2 linked regions of the Homo sapiens genome follow. The protein of the gene in region 2 interacts with the protein of the main gene of each other region in a biochemical or structural test. Each region holds a gene or a part of one and is shown on either strand. Other genes may lie near its edges.

Region 1 (3,825 bases), on a different chromosome or scaffold from region 2:
AAAGAAAGAGCTGTATTACAAAAGAGGGAGAAGTGGAGAGGTAGGCAGCTATTAAAGAATGCAAGGCTTGGATCAAGCAAAGATTTGGGCCACATGAAAGATTTGGAGCTTTGTCTAACAGGTCACAGACATTGATGGATGCTTTTGAGTGGATGCTATAGACTGAATGTTTGTATCCCCACCCAATTTCCTCTGTTGAAATCCTCACCTCCAATGCAATAGTATTTGGAGGTGGAACCTCTGAGAGGTGATGAGGTCATGAGGGTGACACCCTTGTGAACAGGATTAGTGCCCTTATTAAAAAGACCCCAGACACCAGGTGTGGTGGCTCATGCCTATAATCGTAGCACTTTAGGATGCCGAGATGGACGGATTACCTAAACTCAGGAGTTCAAGACCAGCCTGGCCAACATGGTGTAACCCCGTCTCTACTAAAAATACAAAAATTAGCTGGGCATGGTGGTACATGCCTGTAATCCCAGCTACTCGGGAAGCTGAGGCAGGAGAAATGCTTGAGCCCAGGAGACAGAGGTTGCAGTGAGCTAAGATCACATCACTGTGTTCCAGCCTGGCCAAGAGAGTGAGACTCTGTCTCAAAACAAAACAAAACGAAACAAAACAAAACAAGTGCAATGCAGTAATGGAGATGTTGGGGGCAAGAAACTGCTGTTTTTAAGAACTATCAGTGGCTCCCAGAATCACTGTGAGGAATGAAGAGTTTAGCTGAACTTTCAGGAACAATTCCCAAAAAACTGAGCCAAGAAGGGAGCTGCTGCCTCTGGCATGATTAGGAGGATCAGAAAGCTGTTCCACAATAGCCAGCTTCCGGTGGCTGCCGGAGACTGTAGCCCACAGGGGTAGCCTGGGTCAGAGGGATAGCACCCAGGCCAGGGCCAGGGCCAGGACAGAGGGCTGTGGAGTGGCAGAAGCATTCATGGCTCAGCCAGGCAGAAGAATCTACACAGTGACTTTGAATGGAGACTGGGAAGAATACTGGACAACACCTAGGTTTCTGGCATCAAGGATAGTAGTGGTCAATCACTGAAGATAGGAAGAGTGGATTTTAGGAGTCAGAGGTATGTGTGGCCATCTAAGGAACCAGCTGGAGTCAGGACATAGTCACAGTGAACTGAAGCCAGCGTGGGAGGGAGTCCTTCAGGGAGGGAGCTCAGCAGGAAGAGGGTGGGGGAGTGAGCCTGAGGATCACTGAAACACTCAGGACAGGGGCAGGGGAAGCTTAGCCCAGCAACAGGACTGACAGAGAAGCAGCAGAGAGAGAAGAGCAAGGAGGACACAGTCTCAGGAAGTGGAGGAAGCAGAAGTCGACAGTGTTAAATACTGCTGAGGCATCAGCCAAGACAGGCACTGAGAATCCACAAAGAAGCTGACAGGGCCCTTCAGTGAGATGAAGGGAGAAGGAGGGCAGGGAACACTGCCACTAAGTTCAGGAAGACAAGAATGCCCACTGGCCTTGCTGTGTTTAAACTGGAGCTCCTGGCCATGATTATTTAAGGAAAAGAAAAAAAGAGAAAAAGAAAACAGGAATAAAGATTGGAAGGGAGGAAACAAAACATCACTATTTGTATAAACATTCACATAGGATCACAGACCGAATCACAAAGAATCAGTAAATTATTAGAAGTAATTAGAGTTCAGCAAAGTTAATAGATAAAAGATCGACTTAAAATAATCCGTATTTCTCTACACCAGCAACAATTAGAAAATACAATACAAAATAAGGTACCATTGTAATGGCAACAAAACCCATAAAGTACTTAGGAACCAACTAAAGAAAGAATATGCAAGATCTCCGTGAAGAAAAATGTTCAACTGTTCCCTAAAACTTAAAGTATAATAAATAAATAAATAAATAAAAAGAAAAATGTTCAACTGTTAAAAGAAGTAAAATGAGATCTGAATAAACAAGACTTTCTATGGTTTGGGATAGGTCAACTTAACATTATGAAGACTTCAGCTCTCCCTAAATTAAATGCAGTCTTGGCTGGGCATGGTGGCTCATGCCTGTAATCCCAGCACTTCGGGAGGCTGAGGTGGGCGGATCATGAGGTCAGGAGATCGAGACCATCCTGGCGAACATGGTGAAACCCTGTATCTACTAAAAATACAAAAAAATTAGTCGGACATGGTGGCAGGCGCCTGTAGTCCCAGCTACTTGGGAGGCTGAGGCAGAAGAATGGCGTGAACCCGGGAGGTGGAGCTTGCAGTGAGCCATCGTGCCACTGCACTCCAGGCAGGGCAACAGAGCGAGACTCCATCTCAAGAAAAAAAAAATTAATGCAGTCTCATCATTGGTTTTATTATTATTATTATTACTACTACTATTTAGAAACTCAAACTTATTCCAAATGCATATGAAAGAATAATCGTGCACAAAAAACTAACTCTGTATCAAACTGAGAAAAAAGACAAGGGGAACTTGTTTTATGAGATAACAAACATGTATGGCGCTGGGATTCAGAAAAAGATGAATCAGACAGAAGACTGGCCAGATCCAGGTGCAAAAGCAAACCCACTGTCTAATTAAGGCTGCCCCATACACCAGTGAGGAAACAACAAACCCTTGGGAGTGGCTCCATATACGGAGAAAAAAGTTAAAAATGAATTCCCACCAAATACTATATACAGAAGTGAAGCCCAGATACATTAAAGACATAAATGTGAAAGGTAAAACCATAAAGCAAATAGAAGAAAATGTGGAAAAAAATCTTTGTGACTTGTGGAAGAAAATTCTTAAAAACCCCAAGGCACAAACTTACGTGCATATTGTGTAAAACATTAAAAATTCTCAAAACTCTGTTGTTTGCAGTAGATTCTTCCATGTAACAAAGATAAAATGAGAAGAAATAATTATTCTTTAAGATTATTCACCTAGACATAAATATGGTCCATGAGTATGGGGGGAATAGAACAGGTGGCTTTCATTTTACATTTCAAGAAAACATTAAAGTACTGGGTTTGTACTATGCATTTTTTACTCCATAAATGCCACCACCTCAGTTCTTCACACACTTTTACCATAGTCCACATTAACCCCCAAAATACCTGAGTATAATTATCAAGAGACTCATCAATTATAATATGCTTATCATACCTGCAAGACATTCGAACTAAAATAACTGATTTTACTTTCCTTAACGTTAGTGCTGCCTGTAATCCCAGCACTTTGGGAGGCCAAGGTGGGTGGACTGCCTGAGCTCAGGAGTTCACGACCAGCCTGGGCAATACGGTGAAACCCCGTCTCTACTAAAATACAATAAATTAGCCGGGCATGGCGTTATGCACCTGTAGTCCCAGCTACTCGGGAGGCTGAGGCAGAAGAATTGCTTGAACCTGGGAGGCGGAGGTCGCAGTGAGCCGAGATCGCGCCACTGCACTCCAGCCTGGGCAACAGAGCGAGACTCTGTCTCAAAAATAAATAAATAAATAAATAAATAAACAAACAAACAAACAAGCAAGCAAATTTTTAAAAAATAGTGCTATATCCTAAATCCTAAGCGAATGGACCAAGAGGAATAGAATTCAATTAAAACACAGGAGTTTTGAAAGCTGTATTAAATACATCTATTACAGTTATCATAGGCACAACTGAATTAAAATAATGTATAACGCAAATCCAGTTGAAATCTCAGGTAACCCTAAAAGCTTAGGGCTACATCTCAACTTTTATTTCATTACTGACAGCTTCCATAAGAGCTAGAATGGATACTTCAGAATTCAAACAACTAAGAACAGTCAGTCAAAAAAACAAACAAACAAAAAAAAACAAAAAACCCAAAGTCAGCATTTGTTTTGAAATGAGTTGCC
Region 2 (4,324 bases):
ACCTCGTGATCCGCCCGCCTTGGCCTCCCAAAGTGCTGGGATTACAGGCGTGAGCCACCGTGCCCGGCTAAACAACCATTTTCTTATTTAAAACACAGACAATTAACAATATGCCAAGTAGATTAAAAGTTATTTTTTTCTTAAATTCAAAAATGGTATTGCTAACATGAAATGTGTTTTTGGATTGACTTTTCATTTGTGATATTAAATTTGGCAGTTTTTTTTAACCATTTGTGATTAGTGTTATGCATTTTTCATAATGGTAGGCCAATATTTTACTCTAATGAACAATCTAGTGTTTCTTTTTTTTAAGTTATAGCAACGATGTAAGCTTTGAAGCCTGGATTGTAACATAACCACATTTTACTTAACCAGTGGAGCTAGTTTGTCCCAATTTAACACTTTTATAATGCCAAGTTAAAATTGAACCCTTGGGCTTCCTAGTCATTATTATTGAAGCAGAAATACATTTTTGCTTCTTTTGTCATCTTTAATCCCCAACATGACAAAATAAAATATTTTGACTTGTTGACTTGCATACTCATCTTTGCCAACAAATGTAACTCGTGGCCTTCAATGCCTTCTTCCTCTTTCTTTTCACTTTTGTAGCCATTAACCAAACTTATTCCTTCAGTAAGAAACTTAATCCTTGGAACCTTGCTTTCTTTGGTTCTATTCCACAAAGGATCAAAAGCATAATTTTCCTCAAACACTACAATAATTATTTTCTTCCTTTACTTATGAACAGTTGGTAACTTTCTATGGCCGGTTATGTCACTTTTTATCCTAAGAGTTAATATTCTCCCTTCCTCTGACTCTTTCTCTTTTAGCAATCTTATTTTCTCCTGCTCTTCGGCAGTCTCTGCTACTTCCAAGCCATCTGGTTGTTATTGGCACATGGGATTTGCTTTTAACTTCTTTCCTGCCCATGCAGATGTCACCTTTGAATTACTGGGAGCCCACTGTTTCCTGAGTCAGTCCATTTCATCTTTGGATAAGTCCATTAAGGAGTTTTTCTCTTTGTTACATAAACCATATAAATCAACTATATAATTTTTACATTTATCTTTGTGTGTGTTACGCAAAGACCTAAGGAGGTCTTTTTCTTAGTTGTTTTGCATATGTGTGCTATGTCTACATATGTGGTGCTTTGTTTAACCTGCAGGCAAGGATCTTTGCATCAGGCACTTCTGCATTTCCATACCATGATCCATCCTCCTACAACTCCAGACCCACAACAGTATAAGCTCTAACTTTTGGCATAGTACATGTTTAATGGATGTTTGATGTGTAGGATACCTTCTAAATGCAGAACTATTTATATGTAAAAGTATATATATTTATACTTATGAAAGGATAATAAAATCTTTAGGAAATGATTCTGTGAATTTTAATTGTAAAGCTAGAATACAAGTCTGATCATGTGCATACTCACTGCCCCCACACAGTAAAATGCCTAAACATTTCCAATTGTTTAACTAAGAAAACATTACATGTTGTATATGTATCTATAATTGGTTAACAGAGAAGATGTTACATGTTATATATCTATCTAAACCTAAGTGGCTTGGTTTTCTCTATGTGTAATGTGCTATTATTTTCTATATCATAGATTTAGTTCTACCTGTGAAATTTCATATAATGCAGAAAAAATATTGATAGTTTTGCCTGTATTTTTCAATGTGAATATGAAAAAATACCTTGGCATTGTTAATCCAAAAATACATTTATAGTTTTCAAATAGTCTATCTAGCAGAACACTTATTAGTATCTCTAAATTATTAACATCGCTGAATATTCTTGCATTTTAAACTATTTCAAAAATTATTTCCATAACAATTTTAATTGAATCTCCTGTGATGCTATTTTGGTAATTGTAATCAGCAGTATCTTACAATTAGATTTTAATCAAAACCTTTAATGCTATAATGTGTAATCTGAGAGAAGACAGTTATATATCTATGTGGGCTTCTTCTCCTGACCTCCCTCTACTCCATCCAAGAGATGCTATAACCAATGTGAAAACAGATCATGGAGAGCAGAGGTTGCTTTCCATTTGTCCCAAGTAATGTGGAAAATATCCAGGGGTAGCAAGATAGGGTCATGATCAGTTAAAGTCTGGTATAAAGATAAACCTGGTGATGGACTTCTCACTAAGGCTCTTTACTTCCTGTGTGATCAATAAACACTGACTGACTTATAGGACAGTTGCTTAGGGTTAGGAGTGCACCTCCTGGTTATGCAGGAGATTGAAACTGGGGGCACAACTGGCTTGGGGTAAGGGGGGTGTGGCACAGGTGTGGGGGAAGAGTGGGGAGGGCTCGCCTACAGCCCACATTACTCTATTGTGCTGCTTTGCAGGTTCTGAATTATCAGCAGTGAATTATTCTTTTTCAGCTTTTATTATTACTAGATTTCTTTAAAGCCCACTTTTATGTCTGCCCATTAATCATTTATGTAATTTTAGAAGGCAATAATGCATGAGGCACAGAGCTAATTATGCATTCTATTATGTCGTTAGATATCTGGATGAAAGTCATGTTCCAAGACTCAATCCCTTCCCTAAAACTCATTTCCACAAGTGAAGATTTAATGATCTATTTATTTTAAAGGTTTGCCTTTGGGGACAAAGATTATCCTGGTTAGCTCCACTTGAAAGAATAGACTTTTATTTCATGGAATCTGTAAGCGTTTAGAAAAATCACTGTGGACTTTGAAAATATATTTAATACAAAACGTGTTGAAACCCATGCTTTGGCTATCCCTAGGTAGAAATGATCCTCTTTATACCTATGCAGATTATGAGAGCCATAATGTCCTCAGTTCTCATATTCCATTGAGTAAACACAGAACTAGCAAGCTGTGGAAGCAGTGTGTATGAGGGCAAATTGTAGCTTTGTTTTTTAATTCTACAGTCAGTATGTGTGAAAAAAAGGATGATTTTTAAATGATAACAATTCTTAAATGTGATAATTGCTAATGAATTTACTCTGATCAGTTTTGTTCTTTTACCATTCATAGCTAATTTATCACATTACATATAACCAGGAATGCAAACACTAGCCTCATGTATACCTCTCAGTTTGATCTCTTAGTTTTTCTTTTACTCTTCAGGTATGAAAAACCTCATTCTTCAGTAATTACATCCACAGCTCCTAGGTATATGTCATATATTTGATTATGAAGAGATATTTTCCTCTGCTTCTAACAGCAGAGTGCAGTATTTTGCAAGGAGAGTTGTCTTTGTGATTTAGCATATATTCATTTCTGTTCTACTGTGCTTTTTGTGTGCTTAGAATATAGTTCGATCAAAATGTGTGCAAAAACTTTTCCACTCTAAACTACATGAATATTTTCTAAAACTTAAGTCAAAAATAAGACCGCAACTGAGTTCTGGCTTTAGTGACAACGAAGGCAAAATGGATTTTAGGTGGGCAAGGACTGTCTCCTAGATGTCAGTGTCCATTCCGGAGCCACATTTTTGGCAGAAGATTTCCTTGTTCTGGGTCAGGAAGCCTTTACCCACCAAGGAGACAGAGCATTTCCCGCAGTTAAAGCATTCGCTATGCCACTGGCTGTCTTGAAAGCAGATAAACTTGGCACCTGTGAGACCTGTAAAGGAATTGGAGAAAAAGATTAATCTATCCTTTCAAGGAACAGATTGAGCATTCTAGCAGATGCTCCTCTAGGAACTGGAGATAGAGCTATGAGCAAAACAACGCAGAGGCAAATAACCCAAAAAAGAATGCTGCTTCCTGGCCCTGTGTCCATCTGGAACTATCCACTGTAGGAAAGTTACACCTATGCCACCCAACCAGATTCACAGCCAAATTCTGCCATAATCAACAGAAGAAGGCAGAATGCTAATATGCAAGTCAGGTATTTTTGGAAACAGATAAGGTTGTCTAAGCCAGATAAGACAATACAGTGTAGCATAGTGGAAAGAAGGTATAGGTTGTGAAGTCAGAGATATCTAAGTATGAATACATTTCCCCTTTTTCTCTATATGACTTTAAGTTTTCTTAGCTGCAAAATGAAGATAAAAGGAAATAAATGTATGCTTCCTAGTTTGATGTCCAATGTTGTAATGAGTTTTAGTTTTCTTCTTTCCCCTCATTTTTCTGTGCTTAGTTGTACTTAGAATATGTCCTGGGGTTATACGGTTTGGGACACTATTTCTAGAAAGCATAACCAAATAGAGGATTTTGTCTAATCATTCAGCCATCCTAACGTGATGGCCTTATTACCTTGCTCAGAGCCAGCTTCAGCTTTTGTTGAATCTGGCCAATGAAGCCACGTTATCACGTGATTGGTTTCTAAGAGC

What was found.
Region 1: the proteins of FHL5 (region 2) and CREM form a complex in vitro, tested with the Homo sapiens proteins (one study listed by BioGRID).

Annotation. Positions count from the first base shown.
Region 1 is NC_000010.11:35,189,137-35,192,961, reverse strand, and holds part of CREM (cAMP-responsive element modulator), read right to left. Parts: intron 1-3,825.
Region 2 is NC_000006.12:96,614,897-96,619,220, reverse strand, and holds the end of FHL5 (four and a half LIM domains protein 5), read right to left. Parts: intron 3,613-4,324; coding exon 3,449-3,612; 3' UTR 595-3,448; downstream 1-594. UniProt on the Homo sapiens protein: May be involved in the regulation of spermatogenesis. Stimulates CREM transcriptional activity in a phosphorylation-independent manner.